Linked DNA regions of Homo sapiens. The protein of the gene in region 7 purifies or fractionates together with the protein of the main gene of each other region. This does not show direct contact. Each region holds a gene or a part of one and is shown on either strand. Other genes may lie near its edges.

The links.
Region 1: the proteins of MUC13 (region 7) and DNAJC17 purify together in Homo sapiens (affinity purification with mass spectrometry, with the first as the bait; one study listed by BioGRID). This does not show direct contact.
Region 2: the proteins of MUC13 (region 7) and ALDH1A3 purify together in Homo sapiens (affinity purification with mass spectrometry, with the first as the bait; one study listed by BioGRID). This does not show direct contact.
Region 3: the proteins of MUC13 (region 7) and SLC25A24 purify together in Homo sapiens (affinity purification with mass spectrometry, with the first as the bait; one study listed by BioGRID). This does not show direct contact.
Region 4: the proteins of MUC13 (region 7) and CS purify together in Homo sapiens (affinity purification with mass spectrometry, with the first as the bait; one study listed by BioGRID). This does not show direct contact.
Region 5: the proteins of MUC13 (region 7) and ANXA4 purify together in Homo sapiens (affinity purification with mass spectrometry, with the first as the bait; one study listed by BioGRID). This does not show direct contact.
Region 6: the proteins of MUC13 (region 7) and KRT79 purify together in Homo sapiens (affinity purification with mass spectrometry, with the first as the bait; one study listed by BioGRID). This does not show direct contact.

Annotation. Positions count from the first base shown.
Region 1 is NC_000015.10:40,766,735-40,769,619, reverse strand, and holds part of DNAJC17 (dnaJ homolog subfamily C member 17), read left to right. Parts: intron 1-1,557; coding exon 1,558-1,680; 3' UTR 1,681-2,270; coding exon of another isoform or gene 2,271-2,394; 3' UTR 2,395-2,885. Other genes in the region: GCHFR (GTP cyclohydrolase 1 feedback regulatory protein), read right to left, coding at 2,271-2,394. UniProt on the Homo sapiens protein: May negatively affect PAX8-induced thyroglobulin/TG transcription.
Region 2 is NC_000015.10:100,878,293-100,882,724, forward strand, and holds the start of ALDH1A3 (retinaldehyde dehydrogenase 3), read left to right. Parts: upstream 1-1,538; 5' UTR 1,539-1,615; coding exon 1,616-1,714; intron 1,715-4,432. Other genes in the region: collagen alpha-1(I) chain-like, read right to left, coding at 729-1,511. UniProt on the Homo sapiens protein: Catalyzes the NAD-dependent oxidation of aldehyde substrates, such as all-trans-retinal and all-trans-13,14-dihydroretinal, to their corresponding carboxylic acids, all-trans-retinoate and all-trans-13,14-dihydroretinoate, respectively.
Region 3 is NC_000001.11:108,193,457-108,197,435, reverse strand, and holds part of SLC25A24 (mitochondrial adenyl nucleotide antiporter SLC25A24), read left to right. Parts: intron 1-3,979. UniProt on the Homo sapiens protein: Electroneutral antiporter that mediates the transport of adenyl nucleotides through the inner mitochondrial membrane. Originally identified as an ATP-magnesium/inorganic phosphate antiporter, it also acts as a broad specificity adenyl nucleotide antiporter.
Region 4 is NC_000012.12:56,286,548-56,290,526, reverse strand, and holds part of CS (citrate synthase, mitochondrial precursor), read left to right. Parts: intron 1-3,881; coding exon 3,882-3,932; intron 3,933-3,979. UniProt on the Homo sapiens protein: Key enzyme of the Krebs tricarboxylic acid cycle which catalyzes the synthesis of citrate from acetyl coenzyme A and oxaloacetate.
Region 5 is NC_000002.12:69,804,211-69,808,189, forward strand, and holds part of ANXA4 (annexin A4), read left to right. Parts: intron 1-322; coding exon 323-417; intron 418-2,174; coding exon 2,175-2,288; intron 2,289-3,695; coding exon 3,696-3,786; intron 3,787-3,979. UniProt on the Homo sapiens protein: Calcium/phospholipid-binding protein which promotes membrane fusion and is involved in exocytosis.
Region 6 is NC_000012.12:52,831,441-52,835,858, reverse strand, and holds the start of KRT79 (keratin, type II cytoskeletal 79), read left to right. Parts: upstream 1-1,547; 5' UTR 1,548-1,598; coding exon 1,599-2,075; intron 2,076-4,232; coding exon 4,233-4,418.
Region 7 is NC_000003.12:124,921,086-124,925,064, reverse strand, and holds part of MUC13 (mucin-13 precursor), read left to right. Parts: intron 1-1,415; coding exon 1,416-1,538; intron 1,539-2,761; coding exon 2,762-2,868; intron 2,869-3,979. UniProt on the Homo sapiens protein: Epithelial and hemopoietic transmembrane mucin that may play a role in cell signaling.

The DNA.
Region 1 (2,885 bases), on a different chromosome or scaffold from region 7:
GGTGACTCAGCCCCGCTGTCAGGCCCTCACGAGCAGGAACAGGAAGGGGGGCAGAGGGTGTGTTAATGGGGAGCAGCGCCATGCCTGTGATGGGCGGGCTCTGCTGCCCAGGGTTGGGCTGGGGGCCCGCCAAGGGTGGCTCCAAGTTTTCTTGGCAGAGCAGCATTAACCTGGGGATGGGAGATGTGGCCTCCTCTTGGCCTGCCATCAGCCTGGCTGCTATTTCCTTGTCCTCCCTTGTTTTACCCTAGAGGGCTCCTGCCAGGAGAGCGGCTGCTGAAGGCCGGGCCGTGTTGCCTCCTACCTGGCTGTGCTCCAGCCCTTCCCCTCTGGCTACCGGGCTTCCTCTGGGGTCCTCCTTCTCTTGCAGGAGGCTGGGCCAGGGAGGCTGCCGTGAATTGTCAGCCGTGCTCTGGGCCAGGCTTAGCAGTCCGGCCTAGCTGGGACTGCTGCAGCCGGGGAGAGGGGAGGGGTGCAGCCATCGGGAGGAACAGGGGAACCCAGGCTGAGTAACACTTCCTGTTTCTCTACACCCCTTACTCCAAACCTGCTGGCCAGGGCCTGGCATCTCAACCCTAGCTGCTCCCTTCCTATTCCCCGGGTCACTGACCACCACATTTTCCTCCTGCCTTGCTCTGTGACAGCGTCCCCATGCGGGGTACCGCGGATCAGGGCCCCACAGCTCTCTGCTACGGGCAGGCCACCGCATCTTGCAATCCCTGGCCTAGCTCACTTCTGTGCCAACTCAGGTGTGCTTCACACTTCTCTGAGAAGCTGTTGGGACCACATGATCATCACACAGCCTAAGCGGCACCGAGGGAGGAAAAGGTTTAATTCCCACCGCAGACCTTATCAGGGCGTGGGTTGGCAGCTTAGGTCCCGCTGTAGAGCTGCTTCTCCACCCTACAGCCTTGGCCCATTCAGATGGTTGTTTATTATTCTTTTGATTATGGGCCCTGCCCTCCAGGAGCCCTGGTGTGTAGTTTTAGAGGCACGCTGGCCTCATGCTTGCCTTTTTCCCCTTCGAGGGTGGGGCATTCCGGGCTGCCTCGGGTAGGGCTCCCTTCTGCATCCTCAGCAAGAGCCAGACCACAGGGCACCGGGCATAGAGAGTGCCAGGGTCAGTGCCCAGCAGAGCCAAGTGCATCCCTGCTCCTCAGACAACTTCCCTTCCTTGGGAACCTAAGAGGCAGAAGCTACGGGGTAGAGGGAAAGGGGTGAAGGGTAAAGGGCCCAGAGGAAATGAAGGGAGACGAGGGCCTGGCTTAGAGGGCCCGCAGGTGATTCCTGAGAAACAGATGGACCGGAGCTGACGCGGCCTGGGGAAAGGGAGGGGGAGCTGGCTGGGTAGAAGCCGGCCTGGAGGCCAAAGGTGGCGTGTTCTGGGGGACACAGGCGAGCCAGGATTCCAAAAGGATGCTCCGGGTTCCTTCCCTTCCTCTGCCGTCCTCCCTCCGAGACTCTTAGAACGCAGCACTGCCTCGGCACCGTACTCGGAGTCTGTGAGGCTGTGCCCTGCTGTCCCTGACCCCTCCCTGTCCCTGCCCTGTCCGACAGGGCTCAGTGCTGTCAGAGAGGGACTACGAGAGCCTCGTCATGATGCGCATGCGCCAGGCGGCCGAGCGGCAACAGCTGATCGCACGGATGCAGCAGGAAGACCAGGAGGGGCCGCCTACGTAGCCCCAGCTCCAGCCATCCACCCCTCAGCCCTTTTCTTCAACGTCACCAATAAATTTTTTTTTTTTTTAAGATTTTACCTCTATCCCATACATAGGTATAAGGTGCTGGGCTCTGCCGCAGAGCGCTCCACCCAGGCCTGGCGCCCCTCCCAGGAAGTGGGCAGACCCCCAGGGAAACGCTCCGCAGGGTGAGAGTCCCAGAGTCCGTGCACAAGCAGAGCACAGGCGCAGCCACTCATCACAGCCCTTTATTGGCTTGGGCTAGCTATGCAGGAGCCACGCGCCAGGGCCGCTGGAGTGCCCAGCTCCGGCCCGGGGCAGCTGCCCGAGGAACATGGCCTACACAAGGCCCTCGGCCCAGGCCCGAAGCAGGAGGGCAGCTGGGAGCACCAGGGCACCGGGCACTGCCCTCTCCCACTGCTTGACGCAGGGTTTCAGAGAAGGCCATTCACTGCCCTTTGGGGCTGGGCCCATGGCGGTGATGATTTGGGAAGAGAGGAGCAAGGCAGACGGTGAGGCAGGAGCTTGGAGGTCAGGGCCCACAGCAGCCCCTCCACAGGGGTGCCCCGTCTGCAAATCAGCATGAGAAGGTCACTCCTTGTGCAGACACCACACCAGCGTCTGGCCCACCCCCGTCATGCTCAGCACACGGAAGCCCCTGCGTTCCAGCTTGTCCAGGACTATGCGGGGAGGGTCATCGACGTAGTATTCATAACTGCAAAGAGACAGGATGGGGGGGGTGAGGAGGGGCACACAGCAAGCTCCTGGTACAAAGCTAGTGTCTGCAGCAGGCAGCCTGGCCACTCTTGTAGTGACTCACACTTGCTGGCTGCTTGCTGGGCGCTGGGGTAAGTGCACGCCCCCTGCCTCCTCCCCTTCTAGGTACTTCACGAGCTATCTCATTTATTCTTCCCAACAAGCTAGTGAAGGTGCCACTGTTGTGGCCATTGATAGATGAGAAAACAGAGGGGTTAATCAGGTTCCCCAGCGTCCCAGATGGTAGACCATGTTAGTCTGACCACAGCCCTGCTGCCGCCCTCCCTGGGCTTGCTCCCCACCCAGGCTTCCAGGTAGGAGGAGGCTGAGGCTGCAGTGAGCCATGATTGCACCACCGCACTCCAGCCTGGGCGACAGAGACTCCATTTCAAAAAAAAATAAGCCTCCAGGCCCCTCACTGCCCTGGCTGTCCTGCAGTTCTGTAGCAAC
Region 2 (4,432 bases), on a different chromosome or scaffold from region 7:
ACATCTGCCCAGATGTTTTCAGGAGATCTGAGTGGGAGCCATGGGGCCAGCCAAGAGGGCAGGGAGCCCCGGATTTGCAGAAGCAGCTGAGGAAAGAGCTGGCATTGCTCAGACTCGCCAGTGTTAGCCAGCCGATATCGGTCAAGGCTGCCCCGCTCGAGGGTCCATTATCCCCTTTCCCCGGCCTCAGCTGTGCACTCCAGGCCATAACAGCACAAGACCTTTCCACAACCCCAGGGTAAGGGTCAGATGTGGGGTTTCCAAAAGCTTCAAAACTTACCCCTCTATCCAGCTCTATCCAGAAGGACACCAGGGGACAGAGAGATGGACACGGAGGCCTCAAAACAGGAAAATAAGGAGACCCCTCCCCATTGTTGATTACTTGGGGTTACCTACAGAAAGAGATGAACTGAAGGGGCTGAGCCTATCTGAGGATTAAAGCACAGCTTTTGTCAGGAGTCCGTGCCTCCGGTCTTTGTTCCAGCGACCTGAGGAATGGCATGCATCAGAAGCCGCTTCCGTGTCTCAGATGGGGCCTGGGTCAAGTCCTGGGAGTTGATGGAGCGTTTCCCAAATCGCAAAAGGAGAGGAGCTAGACTTACCTCCCCCTCCTGGGAAGTAATGCGCGACAAGAATTTAAACTCTTAAAACGATTAGCAGCAAAGGTCTCATGTGCTTTTTTTTAATTATCATTTTTTAATCGAGGTATAATTTATGCATTTAAAAAATCAGATCAATTGCCCCCCGGGCTCTGGGATGGAAGGCGGTGTGCGCCTGCGAAGGTCAGAGGCCCAGCGGCGCCAGGGCTCCTCGGCGGAGAGCCGCCCGGGTCCGGCGCTTTGCTTTCGCCTTCTGCCCCACCGCGGGCGAAGCCCCAGGGCCCCGGGGAGACTCCAGGCCGGCTGGGCCGGGGTGCGCCCGCCGGCTGTCCGCGCTCGGGCAGGGTGGGGCGCAGCGGGCGTCTGTCCTGCTAGCGGGGATCGGGCGGCTGGACCCAAGAGCAGGGCACGTGCGCAGCGACGCGGGGCGGCCCCGCCAGGAGCCCCGACCCGGGCGCGGCGCAGGGCCCGGCGGAGAGCGCGCATTCCCGAGCGCCGCGAGCCGGCCGAAGTCGGGCGAGCGCGCCGTGCGGCGGCTGGGAGTGGGCTGCATGTGCCGCGCGGGGAGCCCGCCCGACTTCGGGGAGGCAGCGGGGCGCCGTGGCCCCGCGGCTCAGCTCCCTGCCGGGTCGGGTGTCCCAGCCCTGCGACTTCCGGGGCCCGGCGGCTCCTCGGGGAGCTCGTCCACAGGCAGCCTCCGGGGCGAGAGAGCGCGCGGCGCGGGCGCCGGGACGGTCCGCGGCACGCGGGTGGAGCCGCCGGCGCTCGGGCTCCCGCAGGGGCGGCGGGCGGGGCGGGGTGAGGCGGGCCGGCCGCCCTCCCCTCTCCTCCCTCCCGCAGCCCGCCCTCCCTTCCTCCGGTCCCGCAGCCAATTAGGCGGCCCCCTCGGGCGGGAGGCGTGGGGCGCTGCATAAAGCGGCGGGGAGCTGCCACCCCGGGAGCGGGCTGCGCAGTGTCCGGGCCGAGCCGGTGCGCCGCAGACTAGGGCGCCTCGGGCCAGGGAGCGCGGAGGAGCCATGGCCACCGCTAACGGGGCCGTGGAAAACGGGCAGCCGGACAGGAAGCCGCCGGCCCTGCCGCGCCCCATCCGCAACCTGGAGGTCAAGTTCACCAAGGTGAGGCGGGCGCCCCTCCCACCCGACGGCCGCGGGCCCCTGCGCTGGGCAGCCAGACTCGGGGCGGCGGGGGCGAGGGAGCAGCGGGCCGGGGGTCCGCCGGGCGCCGCCGAGACCCGAGCCTCCCTGCCCGGGCGCGGCTCTCCAGAAACCGCACCTTTCGCGGGACGTCTCGGGCGGGATCGCAGGCGGCGGGGCTCGGCGCTGTGAGCCTCGAAGCCGGGAAACCGAGGCCGTCCAGCGCCCGCGCGGGGCCGGGCCGCCCGCATCCCTGCGAGGCCCCGACGTGTCCCTGCGCTGCCCGCTTTGATCGCGAGTGGAGGTGCGCGCCGCGTTGACTCGGAGCGCGCTGGTTTTGGGGAGCTCCCTCCCCAAAAACCCCTGCGATGATTTCCAGGGTGGACGAGTCTGGCTTTGAGAGGGTCGGAGGGTCCGAGAGCGCCAAGAGAGAGTCCGGGAGGCAGATGGCGGAGCTGCAGTTGGAAGACTGGGGAAGCGGGTCCTCCGAGCAAAGCGCAGCGGGCGCCTTCCGTGCTTAGTTTATACCCGGCTCAGCAGCAGAACGAGGAGGAGTAGGAAGGTGCTCGCTTACTGACGAAACCTCCCCGGAGCCCAGAGGTCCCGGTGTTTACACACAAGGCGCGCGCTCCGGAAGGTCGCAGACCTGGGCCTTTGGGAAGCGGTGGGTCGCGAGGCCGCAGAAGCGCACGGTTCTCTGCCTCCTCGCTCTGTGGGCTGGGAGGCTACAGCGTTGGCAGAACGGCGAGATTACCTGCCCGGGGCAGAAAGGAATAAAAGAAGATGGTGAGGCCTCCGAGGCCTCTGAGCTGGGGCTGAGGAGGGCCGAGAGACCCGGGTCCGGGAGCGCGACCCGATGGAGGACACCCCCAGGCTGTCTGGCGTGCGCGTCTGTCGTGGGCCGGTGCTGGGGCACTTTAGAGGCACAGGCCAGGCCGAGAGCCATTGCCTTAACTTTCCCCACCTTTGGCTTCTCTTGATTTTTGCTTTTACCCATAGCCCCCAACTCCAGCTGACACCGCACTTAGAGAATTTCCTCATCCGTTTTACTTTAAGAAGTAGCAATTATCTTTCTCAAAGAATTTTAATCAAGCGGAGAAAGTTGCAGGGCACTATGTGTGGCCTTCAGATTTGGGTCTCTTGGCACTTAATTCCCAATGTCGGCTGAGCCTCTGATCACAAGACATTTAAATTAACTGTTTTCAGAAGGCTCTGTAATCAACAAAGACACGTCGCTGTAAACTAAACGCTGGAAATTATTCTTAATGTAGTTTTATTTGTAATATCAGCTTCAGAGTGAAAATTCCAACACGAATTCTGGGAAGAGTGAAAATGGTACCCGAATTTTGTAAGACCCTAACCCCAGGTGCTTGGCTGCTGCTACTGATGGTTAAGTGGGGAGGTTGTTTGTTTTCTTTTGGTTGTACAGGATTTCAAAATACTGTATATAGAAACCAGACAGTAAATGTATTATGGTCCTTTTACTTTTTATGTTTTTGAGTCCTATCAGCAATCTGACCACATACAAAAAGTTTACCTCTTTCTCTATGATTTTTAGGACACTTTTAAAGTGTAGATGTAGCCCTTATGGAGACCTTAGACAATTCACAGAGCAATGGTTGCCTGTTGTCTTGGTGGGTGCGCAACCTTTGCCAGTTAAAGGGAACCAGTGCAGGAATGAGGCTGAGGGAAGCTGGTGGATCGGCCTGGAGTGCTGGGATCTTGAGTGGTCTCCCAGGCGATAAAGGCCCCAACTGCCTGACACCGGCTGCTGGCTCCTCACCCGTTGGGGGACTGTGCTGCTGCCTGCTCTGTCCTGGCTCCTGGCCCATCTCTGCAGAGACCTCCCCATAGCAGTTGTGGACCCAGGCAGCTTGTGTGGCTGAGGGTGGCCAACCAGTGCCCTGGCACAGTCCTCAGGGAGACTGGACTGGAGAGGCGGCCGAGAGTGAGGCCACCAAGAGTGCCTGCCGAGGGAAGGAGCGGGATAAACTGAAGTGCAGGACTGAGGCCCAGAGTGGGCGAGTGGCCCGGCAGGTGGGTGGCCTGGCAGGAGAGCAGACGGTGGAGCATGGGAGCCAGCAGTGGTCTGCTATTTTCCAAAATTGACTCATGGTGCTTCTCGATAATGGGGCACACACCAGAGTTGGTCCATCTGAGCCCTAGCCCCGGCAGTGCCATTTCCCAGGGTGGTCCAACTTTCAGGATGACTTTGTCAAAGCCCCTTCATTTGTCCTCACATGTTAACATTTCATTCTCTAGGGTCATGCTGTGTGATTCTGGAGAGCTGAGAGCCCCTCCAGGGTCCCCACACAGATCTCAGAGGATAGAAGTCCCTTCTAATTTAGAGGGCCTCTTTCTTTCCTTATAAAATTTCTTCCAGTAGCAGGGATTCTCTTCAAAGTTTTCTGATTTTTAAAACACCGGTTTTTATTATCTCTCTTATGAAAAATAAAATTCCCCCAAATCTCCTTTTCTGAAAACATATTCTTTTTGAGTTTAGCTGAGTGGCCTGTTGTCAGATGGAAGTTACGGGAAATCGGCATCAATAGGATTCACTTGTATGACTGTCATCTTCACCTCTGCCTGAGACACCTTACAGCTCCGTCCTGCTTCCATGTCATTCTGTTCCTTTTGTAAAATGTGAACCAGGTCTACAGCTCAATGTAGCTTAATGCTATACCTCTATAAGGTTTGTTG
Region 3 (3,979 bases), on a different chromosome or scaffold from region 7:
GTTTCAAGGTAGTAGTTTGTATCTAAGCCAAATACTCAGCTTGAAGCAAAATCTCTATAAATTTTCATCTGATTTGATCTCATCTCCGTGTTTCCAAGCATTTGTAATGAATTGAGCATTTAGAAGAGAACAAATTTCTGTTTAAGTTTCTTTAGATTTTAGATGGAAAGAATGTAGAAATAAGAGTAGAATGTAGAAATAGGTATAAGGAATATAATAGCTAACCATTACTAAGTGTTCCAGAATTATCCAGGGAAGAGAAAAGAATTCAAGGCAAGTCCTGAGACAAAATTAAGAACCAATTGGAAGTGAAAGCGCTACATTTTTTTTTCTGGTATGACCTTTCTTTTCTGTATGTTCCAAATCTCCTCACTATGAAATTAGTGAAAAATTAAAGTTAAAAATTAGAGAAAATTCACATTAAGTTCTCCTAGGACTCAGTAGTATAAGGGTATAGACTGAGAGTAGAATGTAGTGTGAGAACAAGGAGATACAGTATTTAACCATTACTAATTCTCTTATACTTGTCTAGTAATCCTATTTCCTTTTAAAAGTCTTCAGTTATTTTCTCTTTACGCACCTCCTTCTCCCTCTTGTCTTCCTCCTTCTACCCCCATCTTCTTTCTTCCTGTGGAGCCTTCATGAATGGGATTAGTGCTTGTATAAAAGTGACCTGGAAGACCTTCCTTGCCCCTTCCACCATGTGAGGACACAGTGAGAAAACAGTGGTCCATGGAACCGGAAAGTGGGTCCTCACTAGACAGTAAATCTCCTAGCACTTCGATCTAGGACTTCCAGTGTCTGGAACTGCAAGAAATCAATGCTTATTTTTTAAGTAAGCCAATAGTATTTTTGTCATAGCAGCCCAGTTGGACTAGGACAATTATCAAGAGCAAGAAGGGAAGCAGCAAGCTACAAGAGAGTTCCGTCCTTGGTGTAAATTGACCGTGTAATCCTTGTCAAGTTTGAGCCTTACTGGAGCTTTACTTTCTTATTCTTAAAATGCAGATATCTTGCCTGCATCCTGGACAGAGCTTTTAACAAGGTCATATGTTGCAGAATATGAAAGTTCATGTTAAAAAACCCTTTAAAATGTGGTATCCCATTTACTAGCTGGTGAACTTCTTGAGGAACCTCTGTGCCCATGGGTATGAAGTGTATGCTGAATGATCACCCAATGTTAGAGGAGTGGGTGGACTGGTAACCTGATTTAAGGGCCATTCTAACTCTTACATTCTATGATTTTTTTAATTCTGTCTTTAAGTTTTTACATTTACAATCACAGAAAAAATAGTCACATAGAAGAATAGTAGCTTAGCAAATGTTTATTGCATTGAGTGGAATCAGGATTTCACTCCATTAAGTAATTCCTCTGTTAACAAAGAGGGTTCATTTCATTTTTATTTCATTAATATTGCTTTTTTTTTTTTTTTCTGGAGACAGAATCTTGCTCTATCACCAAGGCTGGAGTGCAGTGGTGCGATCTCGGCTCACTGCAGCCTCTGCTTCCTGGATTCAAGCGATTCTTGTGCCTCAGCCTCCCAAGCAGCTGAGATTACAGGCACATGCCACCACACCTGGTTAACTTTTGTATTTTCTAGTAGAGATGGGATTTTGCCATTTTGGTCAGGCTGGTCTTGAATTCCTGGCCTCTAGTGATCTGCCTGCCTCTGCCTCTGAAAGTGCTAAGATTACAGGCATGAGCTACCATGGCCAGCCCATTTCCTTAATATTTTAATTGTCAGACATGTTATGGTTTCTGGCACAATATTAAGAAGACATGATATGAAATCACAGGGTGAATTTTAGGGCATCACAACAGAAAGATTATGGTATAAGAAAAACAATGGAATTCCAACTACATTTCTGTCAAATGTTCTAAAATATATAAAATCTGTATCTTTTGTGTTCTCTCCTGATTTATATTCTAAATTTGATGTTATCCTTCTCTGCAGAAATAAAGTGTCTGAAAGAATGAAAAAAATGGAAGAATTCTTTAGTAAGGTATAAAATACCCTTTCTATCTTTGTAGCATTCTAAGCCTTTTGTCACCTTTCCAAACTCCCAACATGCCATATTCCCTGACTAGGCCACAGCCATGTACATTGATCCCTTTATTTTCTTCTCTCTGCCTGAGATTTCTCTCATTCCCCCTTCTCTGCCTGGTATATGATTGCCCATTGTTTAAGGCCCCAACTCACCTTTATAATCTTCCTAGCCCACTTTCTTTATCGGTATTCCAGAAAAAACAAAAGAAGCTTCCACAAGACAACATTCTGTAATACACTGCTTAACTTCTTTTGACCCTGCTGAGTTCAAAAATCTTATCTTTTTAAGGATTGAATGGAGTCCACCAAGGTATCTATATTTGACAGGATTTATGAAAACAAAAGGATTTGTTGAGAAAGTTTGAAGCCTAACTCTGAAACGTGGATCATAGTGTTTACTACACATTAACTGTTTTAGTGGATGTAATAGTTATTATTATAGGCTGTGGAATCAGAACAGGGTTCAAATGTTTTCACCGCTTGCTAGACTGTGGCCTTGGGCATGTTATTTAATGCCTGGAGGCCTCAAATGTTAACTAGGAATGGTAAGACCTACCCAGTAACTTAGCATAAATAGTAAATTCATTCATTTAATGTTTTCAAACAGTGCCAGACATTGTTTAATGAACTGGGGATATAGTGGTGAACAACACTGACAGCGTTCTTCATTGTATTCTCAAAACCCTCCCTATAGTAAGTAGGTCTGTGTGTGTGTGTAGGTGCATGGGGAATAAAAAATAATAAGCAAATAATGAACAGGGTAATTTCAAAAAGCAGAAAGAGCTATTCAACAAAACTACCTGCCTTTTATTAGATGAAACTCTCAACTCTATGGTTTGTTCTCTCCTGTCAATTCTGTTAAATGCTGTCAGCCTGTTTTCCTTATCACCCTGGCCACGACTTCTGTCTTTTCTGCTTGGTCCTGTAGACTCTAACCCAAGGCTCATTCTCTGCCTGGCTATCTGCCTTCTGTGGCTCTTTGCCACTACCTACATTTTCTGTGTTGCACAGGGAAGGACCATTCCCTGTGGACCATAAAATTCTCTTTTTGAAAGAATTCATTCTTGATTGGGCCACAGCACATCTTGTGAAACAGCATTAGACATTTGCCACTGCTCAGCAGCTCTGGGGGAAAATGTTTACTGAGAAGCGTACAGTAGTTTTTTTGACTAACCATGGTGCAACCTCCTCCCAGAGGGAAACCTATGAGTATTTCAAGGACATGTGATGGTCTGTTTTTGTCCCCAGTATCTGACATGATGGGTAGTGTAGAGCAAGAGCTTACAGATAATGGCTAAATTAAATTTTCTTTTTGAATTTTAATATTCAACTTTTTAGGGTACCCAATCTCCATATTTAGGAAAATAAATTACATAAAAAGTGGAGAGTTTTTATTGTGAAACTGCACCTCCATATTCCCAGTGGTGCAGGATGAGGGAGCACAGGTGTTGGTCTGGGGAAGCCAGGGCCCTCTGTGGTTCTGGAGGGTGAGGATTAAGAGGAAGCCTTAGATAGTATTTATGAGTATCTGCTGACTTCTCTCTGGGACCCAAGATCACTGAACTTTTGCCTATTTTGAGATCATCTTTCCAATCCAGCCACTAACAGCTGAAGGATAGGCTTGCCCTGGAGCCATTGTAGTGGTTGGATGAAGATAAAAGATAAAAAACTGTGAGGGGAGGTGTCACAGAAGAAAGGGCCCATGTGGGCAGATTTTCATTCAATTCCTAGTCTTTATTACAGCAATTCTCCAGTGCTGCAACCTTAGAAAAGGATTCCTACAACACAATGTAGGTACCCATCAGCAGCAGATTGGATAAAGAAAATGTGGTACATACACACCATGGAATACTATGCAGCCATAAAAAAGGAGCAAAATCATGTCCTTTGCAGCAATATGAATGCAGCTGGAAGCCAATAACTTAAACGAA
Region 4 (3,979 bases), on a different chromosome or scaffold from region 7:
CTAGAAAGTGGCTATCAGGCTGAGCGCGGTGGCTCACGCCTGTAATCCCAGCACTTTGGGAGGCCGAGGTGGTGGATCACGAGGTCAGAAGTTCGAGACCAGTCTGGCCAACATAGTGAAACCCCATCTCTACTAAAAATACAAAAAATTAGCCGGGTGTGTTGGTGTGCACCTGTAATCTTAGCTACTCAGGAGGCTGAGGCAGGAGAATAGTGTGAACCTGGGAGAGGGAGGTTGCAATGAGCTAAGATTGTGCCATTGCACTCCAGCCTGGGTGACAGTGTGAGACTCCTTCTCAAAAACAAACAAACAAACAAAAAAACATAAAATCTTCCGGGCACTGTGGCTCATACCTGTAATCCCAGCACTTTGGGAGGCTGAGGCAAGTGGATCATTTGAGGTCAGGAGTTTGAGACCAGCCTGGCCAACGTGGTGAAACCCTGTCTCTACTAAAAAACTACAAAAATTAGCTGGGCATGGTGGCGGGTGCGTGTAGTCCTGGCTACTCGCGAGGCTGAGGCAGGAGAATCGCTTGAACCTGGGAGGCGGAGGTTGCAGTGAGCCAAGATCAAGCCACTGCACTCAGCCTGGGCAACAGAGCAAGACTCGGTCTCAAAACAAAACAAAACAGAAAGTCAGCTGGTTGCAGTGGCTCATGCCGGTAATCTCAGCACTGTGGGAGACTGAGGTAGGAAGATCGCTTGAGCCCAGGAGTTCAAAGCCAGCCGGGGCAACATAGCAAGACCCCCGTCTCTATAAGAAAAGTTTAAAAGATAAAATTAGCTGGCCGGGCGCGGTGGCTCACGCCTGTAATCCCAGCACTTTGGGAGGCCGAGGCGGGCAGATCACGAGGTCAGGAGATCGAGACCATCCTGGCTAACACAGTGAAACCCTGTCTCTACTAAAATACAAAAAATTAGCCAGGCGTGGTGGCGGGTGCCTGTAGTCCCAGCTACTTGGGAGCCTGAGGCAGGAGAATGGTGTTGAACCTTGGAGGTGGAGCTTGCAGTGAGCTGAGATCGCACCACTGCACTCCGGCCTGGGTAACATAGCGGGACTCCGTCTCAAAAAAAAAAATTAATTAAATTAAATTTAAAAAAAAATCACCACAGCAAACAACCACCCTCAATTAAAAGGTCTCCTGCTGGGCTGATGTAGTCTCTGGGACATGGGGCCTCTCTAGTAGGGAATCTGTGGGACTCTAAACCATGGAATAGCTTGAACAAGGTTAACTCTGTAGAACAATAGTTTGAACTTATTAACATGTTTTCTTTGCCCACTTTTTTTGTGAAAGAAAGGGCAAAGTTACATCTTCAGTGCTGGGTTCAGCTTCCTGTTTGCCCATGTAGGGTGCAAGGGCTATGAAGGGCTGTTTGTGCTGCCTATTTTCTTGCTCAAGTGATCCTCAGTAAGATAGAGGAGACTCTTGAGGAAGTTAAGAAAAGGAGTTAAGGACAGCCCTGGTAACAAGTTGAGGTGTTCCTCGTTTGCTTTAGGAACATACTGGCTTGGTCTATGCTCTCTGAATTTACCTTTGGATTGATTCTTTTAAAAGTAATCTTTTCTGTCTGGGTGCAGTGGTGCATACCTGTAATCCCAGCACTTTGGGAGGCTGAAAATGGAGGATCACTTGAGCCCAGGATCACTCGAGGCCAGCCTGGGCAACAGAGCAAGACCCCATCTCTACAAAAAAAAATTTTTTTTTTTTTAATTAGCTGGGCTTGGTGATGTGCGCCTGTAATCCTGGCTACTCAGGAGGCTGAGGTGGAAGTATCACTTGAGCCCAGGAATTGAAGGCTACAGTGAGCTATTAACATGCCACTATACTCCAGCCTGGGGGAAAGAGTGACCTTTCTGAAGGGCCTCTTTTCATTCCTCCTCTCCGTCCCAACAGAAATAGGGGAACTAAATTTTAAAAATTCTAAAAATCTGGGAGGCCGAGGTAGGCGTATCACCAGATGTCAGGAGTTTGAGACCAGCCTGGACAACATGATGAAACTCTGTCTCTACTGAAAATACAAAAATTAGCCAAGCATGGTGGCGTGTGCCTATAATCCCAGCTACTCAGGAGGCTGAGGCATGAGAATCACTTGAACACGGGAGCCAGAGATCACGCCACTGCACTTCAGCCTGGGCGACAGAATGAGACTCCATCTCAAAAAAAAAAAAAAAAAAAAAAATTCTAAAAAGCCTTCAGCCCTATAGAACTCTCACCCCAGGCAGGTAGCAATTTTTTGCACAGAGAGCAGTGCAGTAGTTACTAGAAAAGGTGCCTCTGGTCTTTTGACAAAAGGACAGGTGCAGCCTTGCTCCAGGATTAGTTTATTTCTGTGTGTAATCTTCTAAGTCTGCAAAGCACTTTTATATCCACTGTAATTTAGTTATCATGGGACTATTCTGTGAGGTGTGTGGTGAGTATTAGAGCCATTTTATAGAGCAGGAAACTTAGGCTTAATTTGATTATCTCAATTTGTTTTCAAAATCTAGTACAGAAAAATTAATTTCCTTGCCTCAGGCCGTATTCCTAGTTAGTAACCTGATTGGTCATCTTATTTCAAAGTTGGTGTATGGCCTGGCATGGTGGCTTACGCCTGTAATCCCAGTGCTTTGAGAGGCCGAGGCAGGCAGATCACCTGAGGTCAGGAGTTTGAGACCAGCGTGGCCAACATGGTGAAACCCCGTCTCTACTAAAAATACAAAAAAAATTAGCCAAGCATGGTGGTGCATGCCTGTAATCCCAGCTACTCAGGAGGCTAAGGCAGGAGAATCACTTGAATCCAGAAGGCTGAGGTTGCGGTGAGCTGAGATTGTGCCATTGCACTCCAGTCTGGGCAACAAGAGTGAAACTGTCTCAAAAAAAATAAAGAAAAGGAAAAAGAAAACTCACAAAGTTGGTGTGGAACTTTTATTGCAACTTAACAATCTTCTCACAGATGTATTTTTTATTTGAGGAAAAAAGAAACTACCTGTACACACAGAAAAGCATAAACTAGCTAAACTATTTTCTCTCTCTCTCTTTTTTTTTTTTTTTTTTTTTTTTTTTTTTTGACAGAGTCTTGCTCATTTGCCCAGGCTGGAGTGCAGTGGCACAATCTTGGCTCACTGCAACCTCTGCCTCCAAGGTTTAAGCCATTCTCCCACCTCAGTCTCCTGAGTAGCTGGGATTACAGCTGCCTGCCCATACCACGCCTGGCTAATTTTTGTATTTTTAGTAGAGAAGGGTTTCACCATGTTGGCCAGGCTGGTCTTGAACTCCTGACCTCAGGTGATCCACCGCCTCAGCTTCCCAAAGTGCTGGGATTACAGGCATGAGCCACCGCGCCCAGCCAAACTAATTATTTTCTTTTGACACTCTTAGAAACTTTGCAAGTTTCCATTTCTGCTAATGAGTAGTCTTCTGTCAGCTTCTTTGTAGATAATCTTTGTGCTTTTTCCAGGAGGGTCAGAAGTACCGTTATGAAAGGCTGCCCTCTGCCTGTGGTCTTTCCCAGATTAGAGAGGTTGAAGTGCTGTCGAAAGACCAGGTGCAGGAGAGATCTTACCAGCAGTGTTAAGTAATTGCTCAGTTTCCTCATTTGTTTTCCTTGGGGTCACTCAAAAATATTGATAACCGCCCTGCTCTGGAGCCCAGATGATGGGAAAGAGTCTGTCTTCAAGGAATGCTAGTGAAGCTATGGATGAAAAAAAGCAGTTAAACCTCCTGCTGTCTCCATAGTGGTAACTCCTTCCAAACTGTTTGGGGACTTTTACAGCTTTCTTATGTCAAACTGCCCTAAGAGACTGAGATGAAGAGAGAGAGGTTGAGTCACTGTAATTCCTTCTTGTTAATATAAAAGAGGGAGGGGTAACAGTTACATAAGGTTCTCTTTTTTGCTTTGCAGAATGCATCTTGTCTTGTTCTTGCAGCCCGGCATGCCAGTGCTTCCTCCACGGTAAGGTTTGGAAAAGAAGACTAAGAATAAGAATCATTGCGGCCAGC
Region 5 (3,979 bases), on a different chromosome or scaffold from region 7:
GTAAGTGCTAGGCATTTAATTATATTAACACTTGCAGCAGCCTATCGAGGGAAATCACTGTCATCATTCACATTTGCAGATAAGGAAACTAATGTTTAGAAAGTTAACCATTTTCTTCAGTAGTAAACAGCTAATTAAAGGAGAGGCTAAGTCCCGAACCTAGCATCTGTTTCCCAAAAAGTAGACAAACCCTCTGAATAAGGGCCTCTTTTCTTAGAAAGCCCTCTGCATGTGTTTGGGTAACTCCAATGTCCACAGAGGAACCTGCTTTCTCATTCCTCTCTCAAATCACACTTACCTGCTGTCTCCCTTCTTCCCCCAGGCACCGATGAAGACGCCATTATTAGCGTCCTTGCCTACCGCAACACCGCCCAGCGCCAGGAGATCAGGACAGCCTACAAGAGCACCATCGGCAGGGTAGGCCACAGTCTTTCCTGCTCTGTCTGGCTGACTTCGCAGCAACAGGAAGCAGGGCCTCTTCCTGATCTAGGTTCCCGAAGTGACCTTGTGTTTTAAAAGATCGATCCTTTGTCTTGTTTAAAGATGTTCTTGAGGCCAGGTGTGGTGGGTCACACCTGTAATCCCAGCACTTTGGGAGACCGAGGTGGGTGGATCACTTGAGGCCAGGAGTTTGAGACCAACCTGGCCAACATGGTGAAACCCCATCTCTCCTTAAAAAATACAAAAATTAGCCGGGCATGGTGCTGAGCACCTGTAATCCTAGCTACTTTGTAGGTTGAGGCAGGAGAATTGCTTGAACCAGGAGGTGGAGGTTGCAGTGAGCCAAGATCATGCCACTTCACTCCAGCCTGGGCAACAGAGACAGACTCCATCTCAAAAAAAAAAAAAAAAAAAAAAAAAAGAATAGCGATTCAGCTCCTTCTTCGTCAATTGATCTTAAACAAGTTCTTAAACTCTCTGACCCATTCCAGGAGGAAATGTGAATAAACATCTTTAGAATTTGGTCCATTTTCCAAATAATTATATTTGGAAACTATATCTCAGGAATTGAGCCTTAAGAAATAGTCATGAATGATCACAAAGATACAACTAAATGCCTTATGTATATAACAGTAGAAAAATAGAAACAGGTGACTAGTTAAAGAAATTAGGCTGGGTGTGGTGGCTCACACCTGTAATCCTAGCACTTTGGGAGGCCGAGGCGAGTGGATCACTTGAGGTCAGGAGTTCGAGACCAGCCTGACCAACATGGTGAAACCCCGTCTCTACTAAAAATACAAAAAAATTAGCTGGGCATGGTGGTGGGCACCTGTAATCCCAGCTACTTGGGAGACTGAGGCAGGAGAATCGCTTGAATCCAGGAGGCGGAGTCTGCAGTGAGTCAAGATCGTGCCACTGCGCTCCAGCCTAGGCAACAGAGCAAGACTCCATCTAAAAAAAAAAAAAAAAGAAATTATGTTGCACCTATCTATAGAAATCTCCACAGCTGCTAAAAAGGTTATCAGTGAATATTGACTTGGAAGTATATTCAAGACATATTGTTAAGTAGGCAAATACATTTACATCGGTGTCTACAAACATATTCACCTCAAAGTTCCTTTACCTCTTAAATTTTTTAGGACTTTTGGTTTTGTGGGTTATATCTTTTGATATTTGCCCTATTAGAAACTAAAACTGAGGGCATTTAAAAATAGATATTTGTTAACTTAGTAAAAATAATAAGTATATTGTATGTTACTGTAAATAACATTTTAATGAAAAATAGCTATATATCCCAAAACGAAAAAACATTTAGTGAGAAGATTGGCATTGTTTTACATTTTGCAGATCTCTTTAATGTCTGGCTTAATGGAAGACAGATGGCTTCTCATATCTATTTCTACTTCAATTTGTTATGATATGTGGTTTTGGTTGGGGTATATGAAGAAAATCTGGCTTGTACAGATATGTACTTGAAAATGGGGGGAGTATTTGAACAGACAGTTGTTGATGCACAGACAATGTCAAATAGCCTTAGGAAAACCCCACTGTATGCTTGTGGAAGAATGACAGTGAAAAGGCAAATAACATCTGAGTGTTATTCTGAGGATAGTTTTGACTTGCAGGCCCCTTGAAAGGGTCTTGGAGACCCCAGACATCCCTGGACCACACCTGGAGAGTAGCTGGTCTAATTTGCTATAGCAGTTAAGCGGAGCTACTTTCTTGCATTGCAGGACTTGATAGACGACCTGAAGTCAGAACTGAGTGGCAACTTCGAGCAGGTGATTGTGGGGATGATGACGCCCACGGTGCTGTATGACGTGCAAGAGCTGCGAAGGGCCATGAAGGTCTGTGCTCTTCCTCTCGTGCTCTTGGTGCTGTTGGTGCAAACGCTGATGTGCTTTCTTAAGAAACTGTCACCCAATAAGAAAGACATGGAAGCAACCTAAACGCCCATCAATGGTAGACTGGATAAAGAAAATGTGGTACATGTACACCATGGAATAGCTGTAAAAAGGAACAAGATCATGTCCTCTGGAGGAACATGGATGGAGCTGGAGGTCATTGTCCTTAGCAAACTAAGGCAGGAACAGAAAATCAAATACCATATGTTTTCACTTACAAGTGGGAGCTAAATGATGAAAACACATGGACACATAGAGGGGAACAACACACACTGGGGCCTGTTGGAGGATGGAGGGTGGGAGGAGGGAGAGGATCAGGAAAAATAACTAATGGGTACTAGGCTTAATACCTGGGTAATGAAATAATCTGTACAACAAACCCCCATGACACAAGTTTATCTATATAACAAACCTGCACATGTACCCCTGCACTTAAAGTAAAAGTTAAATTTTTTTAAAAAAGAAAGAAACTATGACCAAGGCCTTCTGAGAGTAGCAGGTGTAAAGTATAGGAGATTTTCCTTCATTTACGACAACTTGAAAACATCATTACTTTACATTATACCAATTATAATTTAAAAGTTCTTTTCCAAAAAGTTAGGGAATCATTTGCTCCTTCCTGTGGCTCAATGGGGAGTGATTATAATTGTCGCTTTTAGTACAGCTCTAGAGACTTTTAGCTATCTCTAGACAGCTAACTACTTTTGAGATATGTAACTTTATGACTGACACTTTAGGGGCCTCCAGGTCTACTATAGGCTTACTTCTGGCAAAAGAGTTCCTGGCTTCCCTAGATGACGTACCCACTGTGCCCTAGCCTGGTCTGCCAAATTTTAATGACCAAGTATGTAATGCAAATATAAATGGTCCCCACCTTAGGATGGTTCTACTTAAAAATTTTCAGTGTATTGTACTCCTCATCATAAGTCGAGGAGTACAATTATCCTCCTCAACCATGTCAATAAATACTCAGACTTGTGGAAGGTTCTGGGCCAGGCTCTGGGAAAGCAAAGAGGTGACAAAGTCTTTGCCAGAAAATTCTGCCCTTCAGAGGAAGAGAGCAGAAGAGGTCAAGGAAAAATTAAGTCCCCAGAGGGCAGAAACCATACCTACCCGGGCACAGTAACGAACACATAATAAACAGCCTAGAAATGTTTGTTATTACTCATAATTGTTACGGCAAACACTTTGGGTTTCGGGTGGGACAATAAAAGTGAACAAACCCTGTTGTTAGAACGCAGTGGATTGTCTTTATTCTCTGCAGATTCATGACAGATGTATTCCTTCTGTGTCTGGGCCTCAGCTTTGTAAACTGGCTCATATAGCCCTGTCCTCTGGTTTCTTGTTTAGGGAGCCGGCACTGATGAGGGCTGCCTAATTGAGATCCTGGCCTCCCGGACCCCTGAGGAGATCCGGCGCATAAGCCAAACCTACCAGCAGCGTACGTGACATCCGCAGTGGCCCTGGCTGAGGTTTCGCTGTGATTAGAGAATGAGGGTAGCAGCGGGTTGTTGTTTGCTGATTAGACTTTTCACAGAACGCTGAGCATGAGGGATCCTCGGTGCCAAGCTCTGCTTCGAGGGAGATCCCTGTTTAGCCAAATGGCGGTCTGTTGGCTCCTTAAGATTTCTCAG
Region 6 (4,418 bases), on a different chromosome or scaffold from region 7:
TCCTAACTCCAAAATCTCCTCTTGGCTATTAAGGGACTAGTTCTGCAAGTGCTCTCACTCCCATTCCTTGTGGGAGCTGGGTTCAACCTCTTCAAGCAACGGGGAGCCACTTACAGCCTCCCAGGGGCCCTAGGAGAAGATCCCACAGCTCCCTCTGGTCCTGGAGCAGGCTGTCTCTTCACTTGCTGGGCTGTGGGGAACATGGGAGGGAGGCCAAGCCTTCTCCGTGGCAGTCCCATGTCCTCTCTGTTGGGATCCTGGGGACACAGCCTGGCTGGTTGTCCTGCTCATCTGATGGGGGTGGGGAGCACAGCGATGCTGTCCTCGCTCCTTTTTTTCAGGCAAGTCTCTGTTCACTTTGAGCCCATCTTCTTGCTGAGAGAAGGGGGTGGGGAGGGCCAGTGTCTAAAGTCACCTCCTCAGTCACCCCTCGGCCCTGACAGTTGACGTCTCTGTCTTTGCTTGGGGCTGTGTTTGGTCCCAGCAGACTGAGGTGAATAGGAAGTGGGCGGCGGGGACCATATGAGGTGATTTAAGGAGCTCCCCTGGCCCCTCTGAATCAGAAACATGGGCTCCTGCATGTGGGGCAGGGGAAGATGGGAGTGACGGGGCTGCTGCGTGGGCCTCCTGGGGCTTTTTTGGAACACCTGCTTTTTGGAGCTGTGCCTGTCTCCACCCAGGGTGGTCTGTGTCCTTGACCCACCTCCAGCTCCCTCCAAAGTGGCTGAACCTTTCTGTGGGGACTCTGCTGTGGGGTAGAGGCTCAGGGATCTCAGGTATTGGTTAAATCCCCTGCCCTCTCTTCAGCCTCCATAAGAATGTCCTTTGCTCCCAGGCTTCTGGGCCCTGCCTGAGGACCCCAGGCCTTTTCTACCTCCTGATCAAGGGCCTGGGCCCCACGATTGGGCAGGGATCCTCTTTCTGTCCTTGAATTCACTTTGCCAGCATAGGCTCACTTCCCAGAAGGCTCTGCCACTGTACGGCAGAGGCACAGGCTATCCCCACTCTCGCCCTGTCACCTGTGTCACACACCCTGGACCTGGGAGGAGTGGTGGGCCGTTGGCTGGGGGTGGGATGGGAGCAGGCCTGGATGCTCTCTCTGGCAGCCCATTGCCCAATGCTCCTTCTCCTACCACCTGTACAGCCCCAGGCCCTGCAGCCTTGGCTTACAACAGGGGCCTGGGACAAACCCCGTAGAACAGAGCCCTATTGACAGTGGCCTCTGGGGCTGGGTGGGAGGACAGCAAGCCAGCCACTGGGTGGTGGGGGTGGCCATGGGAGCCCGTATCATCCTGTGCCAACCGAGGAGAGCCTGGGGGCAGGGGGAGAAGGTGGCATCCTGCCCCAGACAGTCTCGGCTCAGCCCCAGCTCTGGAGCACAGGTGATAACCGGGAGGGCCCCTCCCTCCTGCTTGGGGAGAGGGCACTCCCCGTGGCCCTAAGGACCCCTCCCTCTCCCCTTGGGGCGATGGGGCAGGAGTGTCTGTGGAGCTGGGGAGCCGGCCCAGTTGGGAAAAGATAAAAAGCCCACAGTGGCCCAGCAGCTCACGGCACTCCCTTCCTGCCCTCTCATCCTGCCCTCCGGCCCCTCTGCAGCTATGAGGTCCTCCGTCTCTCGGCAAACATACTCCACAAAAGGGGGCTTCAGCTCCAACTCTGCCAGCGGAGGGAGTGGGTCCCAGGCCCGCACCAGCTTCAGCTCAGTGACGGTGTCTCGGAGCAGTGGCAGTGGTGGCGGGGCCCACTGTGGCCCCGGCACAGGTGGCTTTGGCAGCCGAAGCCTCTATAACTTGGGGGGCCACAAGAGTATCTCTGTCAGTGTGGCCGGAGGGGCCTTGTTGGGGCGGGCTCTGGGGGGCTTTGGCTTTGGCAGCAGGGCATTTATGGGACAGGGGGCTGGCAGGCAGACGTTTGGGCCTGCTTGTCCTCCTGGGGGGATCCAGGAGGTCACTGTCAACCAGAGCCTGCTGACCCCCCTCCATGTGGAGATTGACCCCGAGATCCAGCGAGTGCGCACTCAGGAGCGGGAGCAGATCAAGACCCTCAACAACAAGTTCGCCTCCTTCATCGACAAGGTGGGCCAAGCAGGAAGGAGGAAGGGAGCTCTTGGGGAAGAAGCGGGACCTCTAATAGAGGGTGGGCTGGGCCAGGGCTGCTGTAGCCCACTTGTACTAGGGTGGTGGTTGATAGAGCTCTGGAGCTCTCCCGGTCTGAGCCTGGGATGCCGAGACGTGGGTGGCTGGAGGCGGCCTTCAGGTCTTCACCGTGCCTGTGCGGGGGGAGTCTCCAGTCTACTCATGAGTCCGGTTTGCCAAGTCCACCTTGCCCGTGTTGAAGCCTGTCCTACCACCATGATTAATACGATTGATTGCACAGTAGCCTTACCTCATCATCAAAAAATGGATTGTCCTCATAGCTCCTCTTAGTGGGGTGGCCTGCATTGCCTTTTGTCATTTTACAGCTGGGGAAACAATGCTCAGGAGTTGAAAGAGTTGTTCAAGGCTAAGAGCATGGAGCCCTGTTTGTTCCATTCTTTCAGGCTTGGAGGAGGCTTAAGGGCAAGATGTGATCAAAACACAGTTGTGTGTGGGTGGGGTCCTAGGGGTAGGCTCCCTTCCGCTTCTCCTTTTTTTACACTCTGAGTGAAGAAGCTCAATTTGGGGTGGACAATGAGGAGGGTGGTCACCAGGTCACCAAGCTCTGGGAATGTGGAATTTGACCTGTTGCCCATAGGCATGCCCTGAACCTTGCCCTTGCCTCCAGATGGATGGGAGCAACACTTGTGCTGGGATTTCCTGGTCTGTTTCGCTGGCATTGTCCACCTCGATCCTGAGCCAAGGCAGCGGGTCATGATGGGGAAGGTCTGGCAGACAAATGTACCTTGGTTCAGTGATTTGTGTGTTTCCGAAGAACATGCACATCCCTTTTCTCCTGAGGTACCCACAGTGCTTCTATGAAGACTCAGAAATGGTGATATTGTGCCCATTTTTGAGATGAGAAAATTGAGGTCTAGAGAGCTCAAGTGATTTGCCCAGGATGATACAAGGAGTTGGAGGCAGAGGCGGGACTGGGACCCAGGCCCCTGGACTCTGTGGTTCTTGGCACTAAGAGTTGTTACTGCTCACAATAGGCACACCTGCTGCATGATGCTCCCAGGGCATGTGACTGAGGCCCAGGTAGTGTGGAGATGGGACCTGGAGATATTGGATGACAGAATATGAAGCAAGCCGTCTTGCCTGCCTCCTCACCCTCTCCCCTAGTGACTTTTGGTTTTCCTGTGGGACTGTCCCAGAGGCCAAACAAGCCAAAACCTTTCTCAGGATTGCAGAATCACAGCTTGGGAGCTGGAGGTCTGAGAGATTGTCTTGGAACCCCAGCTGGGCCAAGAACTCTCGGGGGTCCTGTTAAACCCACACCGTAAGCCTCCTTCTGAGTCTATAGAGGAAGGGCTCAGACATTGGTACTTTAAAAAAAGTTTTTTTTGGGAAAAAATGTTGAATTTACAGAAAAGTTGCAAGAATAGTACAACATACTCCTGTATACTCTTTCACCCAGTTCACCAATTTTCTTAATTTATTATTATTATTTTTTGAGACAGGGTCTTGCTCTGTTTCCCAGACTGGAGTGCAGTGGTACAGTCATAGCTCACTGCAGCCTCCATCTCTTGGGCTCAAGTGATCCTCCCACTTCAGCCTCCTGAGTAGCTGGGACTACTGGTGCATGCCACTACACCTGGCTAATTGTCTTGATTTTTAGTGGAGACAGTCTTGCTATGTTGCCTAGGCTGGTCTTGAACTCCTGAGCTCAAGCACTCCTCCAGCTTCAGGCTCCCAAAGTGTGTGATTTTAAACAGTTGATTTACATTTTAAACAGATGATTTTAATGCAGAATTAGGGGTCAGAAACATAGATCTAGTCCAGTTTATGCAGGACAAGTGAGAGAGGGAGACTCAGAGAGAAATGATTCGACCAAGGTTACCAACTAGTAAATTGGTACTGCTACTGAGCTGGGCTTTTGTGCTTATTAACTTGGTAGAGTTCTTTCCATCAGATTGGACGGTCGTTTCCAGCAGTCTATTCCCCTAAGGAGTGCCTCCCCACAGCAAAGTGTAGGTGCGGCTGCAGCGTCCCTATGTTGCCCTGGCCTTGGAGGGGAGGTGGCAATGGACCCCATCCTTGGCTCCTCTGGTGACCGGAGGGTGACATCAGCCCACCCTTTCTGCTCTGGCTCAGGTGCGGTTCCTGGAGCAACAGAATAAGGTGCTGGAGACCAAGTGGGCACTGCTGCAGGAGCAGGGCCAGAACTTGGGTGTCACCAGGAACAACCTGGAGCCCCTCTTTGAGGCCTACCTGGGTAGCATGCGGAGCACGCTGGACAGACTTCAGAGCGAGCGGGGGAGGCTGGACTCAGAGCTCAGG
Region 7 (3,979 bases):
TAGTGGCACTCATGAACAAAGCTGATATTAACATGGATGTGCAGGCTTTTGTGTGGACATAAATTTTCCACACCTTTGGTTAAATACCAAGGAGGGTGACTCTCAGATCTTCTCGTAAGAGTATGTTTATTTTTGTAAGAAACCACCAAACTTTCCTCTCAAAGTGGCTGTGTCATTTTGCATTCCCACCAATGAATGAGAGTTCCCATTGCCCCATATTCTCACCAGCATTATTTTACTTTTTATTTTTTAATAAAAGTAAATTAGGCCTATAATTATGGAAAAAACAGCTCAAACAGGGCAAAATCATGTACAATAAAAAATAAATCTCCCTCTCATCCTAAACCCCCAGGACCCAGACCCCCAGTTTCCTTCCCCAGAGGCAACTTCTGTGCCCAATTCCTTGTATCTCCCTCCTGAAATTACCTATGCAAATATAAGCAAATATTTGCTTGTGTATAATCCTTCCCTTCTTTTATTCACAAAAGAGAGCATGTTATACACATTGTACCTTACATACAGCTTTTAAAGAAATCAGTGGTTTCTACATATAGGTTTGTAAGACTCTCAAGACAGCTCTGAAGGTTATCAAACACATAAGCTATTCTGACATCACAGCTCAGAATCATTCCACTTGACAGAAGTGAAGAAAACTCATAGCCCAGATCACCACTGGACCACTGAGCTAACTCTCCTCCTCAGATCTCATCAGTTCCCCAGAGAAAGAAAGATGCTACACCCTGCCTGGCCTGGGAGTCTCAGCCCACAGTGTAGAACCCATTGCAGTGTTATTTTCACCATTTATTCAGATGATCCACTTAGAAAGCCAGAGGCTGGAATGTCTTCTCATGGCCTCTTAGAATTTTCACTGAGTTAATCCACATTTCTCTCCTTTACTATCCCATTCCTGTTTTTATGGCTATGTCTCCTAGGTATGCCTAACAGAATGTGACATCTAGTTTCTTTTGGAGCTTCTTGGCTGTTTCTTCCTATATGACAATTATTCATACCTTTCTAAAAATAAGATGTTTTATCTAGAATGTTTTGGGGAGCCCCACCTAGTGTTAGAGGACCATGCTTCAAGGTTCTGGAGGGACTTTGAGATCTGAAGATTCCTGACTCCTTGGAGTCAGAAGACTGCAATCTCTCTTTCTTTGGGCAAGCCCTTGTACACTAATCTCTGATCTTTACTATTGACAAGTATTATACTTGGCTCTAGAATTTCAGAAACAAACTCTCTAGAGACCTAAGCAAGCAAATATTTGTTTTTAACTCTTCCAAAAGTGTGCTGTGGAGTAACACAAGCAAGGAATGGAAAGGGCCCAGGGGGGAGGCATGAAGATGGAAAAATACGTTTCCAGTTGTTATTTATTGTCATTTCTCTGGATTTCTAATCTCTTTCTACTCCATCTAAGGTCCCAGCAATCCTTGCCAAGATGATCCCTGTGCAGATAATTCGTTATGTGTTAAGCTGCATAATACAAGTTTTTGCCTGTGTTTAGAAGGGTATTACTACAACTCTTCTACATGTAAGAAAGGTGAGTTACAAGGGATGAGCCATGGCTGAGCTCTGTATCTCACACCAAAAGTGGAATCGAAAACTCAAAATGATGGCAAAAGGAGATTCCAAAATATGAGAGATAAAGAAAATGCAGAGGCAACAAAGGCCAGCAAAGTAGAGAAAAGTGCTGTTACCTAGGGACACTGAGGCAGAACAAGGTGATCTATCAAAGACCACACAGTCCAGCAACCCTGGGAGCCTGATCTTCAGTTCTGTGTCACAAGATTTGTTTGCTCCATAACATCAGATCCCCCTCTTAGAGACATAAGAGCCCTTCAGCTCTAAAAATGGATTTCAGGAGTACATTTATACACTTGTGGCATAATGATGTTTTGATTAGATCACCAGGGTGCAGTGAAGGTCTGAGGGCTGACTGTCTGAGTTCTGTTTTTTTTTTTTTTCTGTTTTATGAATGAGAAATATCTTCATTTTCCAGAGCAGCCAATTCTATAAGAAATGAATGCATTGCATTGCCCACTGGGGTTAGGGATATACCAAAAGGCCCCCAAATGCTCATATTTTTAGCACTAATAATCTCACTCCTGGGGATTTACTCTAAGTAAGTGACCCCAAATACAGAAGAACAGTTTGTGTGTGAAGATGTTCATTGCAACTTTTTCTTTTCCTTTTAAATAATTAAAAGCACTAAGTCCAATAACAAAAAATGATTACATCAAGGAAGGGGACATGTACTTCACAGAATATTATGCAACCTTTAAAAATGATGGTTATGAGACCAGGCATAGGAGCTCACACCTGTAATCCCAGCACTTTGGGAGGCCAAGGCAGGAGGATCACTTGAGCCCAGGAGTTCAAGCCTGCAGTGACCCAGTTGTGCCACTGCACTCCAGCCTGGGTGATAGAGCAAGACCCTATCTGTCTCTCTCTCTCAAAAAAAAAAAAAAAAAAAAAGACTAGGCAACGATTTGGAAAATACCTATTATATAATAAGAAGAAAAAAAATATGGCATAAACTTGGAATTACAACAATGTAAACTGTAAATGGAAAGAAATATACCAAAATTAAAATGGTTGTGCTAGGTTGGGCAGGATGATGGGTAACTTTTAAAATATTTCCAGATTTCCTGTAGTGTCGTTATATAATGTTGGGAATTCTAAAAAATAATCTATGTTTTAAAACAAAATGGAAATGACCCTCTTTTCATCAAATAGTACAGAAAGATTCTGCTTAACTTTCAGGAAAGGTATTCCCTGGGAAGATTTCAGTGACAGTATCAGAAACATTTGACCCAGAAGAGAAACATTCCATGGCCTATCAAGACTTGCATAGTGAAATTACTAGCTTGGTAAGTATTTTCCAACTTTCCTTTCTGTAAAGCATTCTTTGTTCTAACACTGAGTTGCAGAGTGTAGAGCTGGTCTTCAGGTGGTTCACGCTCGTACCATCGTACCAGTTGTTCAAACAGTGAAATGTACCTTTACTGGTCGGTAAACAGCAGCTGTCCTGAGCGCCTCCACCGGTGCCACCACTTCTTCATTGCCCAGGCCTCTCCCCTGGGACCCTTGGACCACCCCATGGTCTTGCACCTGGAGGCGTGGCACCTGGCCTGGCATGGCAGAGGGCCTGCAGAAGCTGGCTCCAGCCATACCATACCCATTGTTTTATAAGCTATTAACACAGTTTTAAATGGACAGATAAATATCATGAAGTTTTAAAATAAATTATTTCCACAGAATGAAAGAGAAAAAATTTAAAGATGTTGTTTTTCTTTTTTATATTCAAATTTGCATAAATTTTCATACTAGTCTGGCTTTTAAAAAAATGTCTAGAAGAAGAATTACATCTGAATATCTGTTACTTATTTTTCCCATTTTCAAAAATGTTGGCATGAACAATAGTTTCCCATCATTTAGATTATTGTGAGCAAGTGCACACATGTGAGCAAGCATGAAAGGAAAGGGTCTTTCCATTCTGCAGCCACAGATGTTAGCTCTGGAAGGACCCTCAGAGCATGTCCAGCCAATACAGCTCAAAGTTCAGTTTTAAAGGAAAAAATATTAGCCTTAAATATGTCTTAGAAGTTGAGGTGGAGGCTGGGCATGGTGGCTCATGTCCGTAATCCTAGCACTTTGGGAGGATGAGGCGGGCAGATTACTTGAGGTCAGGAGTTTGAAACCAGCCTAGCCAACATGGTGACACCCCATCTCTACTAAAAATACAAAAATTTAGCCAGGCGTGGTGGCAGGCGCCTGTAATCCCAGCTACTCAGGAGGCTGAGGCAGGAGAATCTCTTGAACCCAGGAGGTGGAGGTTGCAGTGACCCAAGATCATGCCACTGCACTCCAGCCTGGGCAACAGAGTGAGACTCTGCCTGGAGAAAAAAAAAAGGAAGTAGAGATGGAGAGACATTTTTTTAAAGCTGAAGTCTTATTCCATGACAATGTCTCTCAATTTGA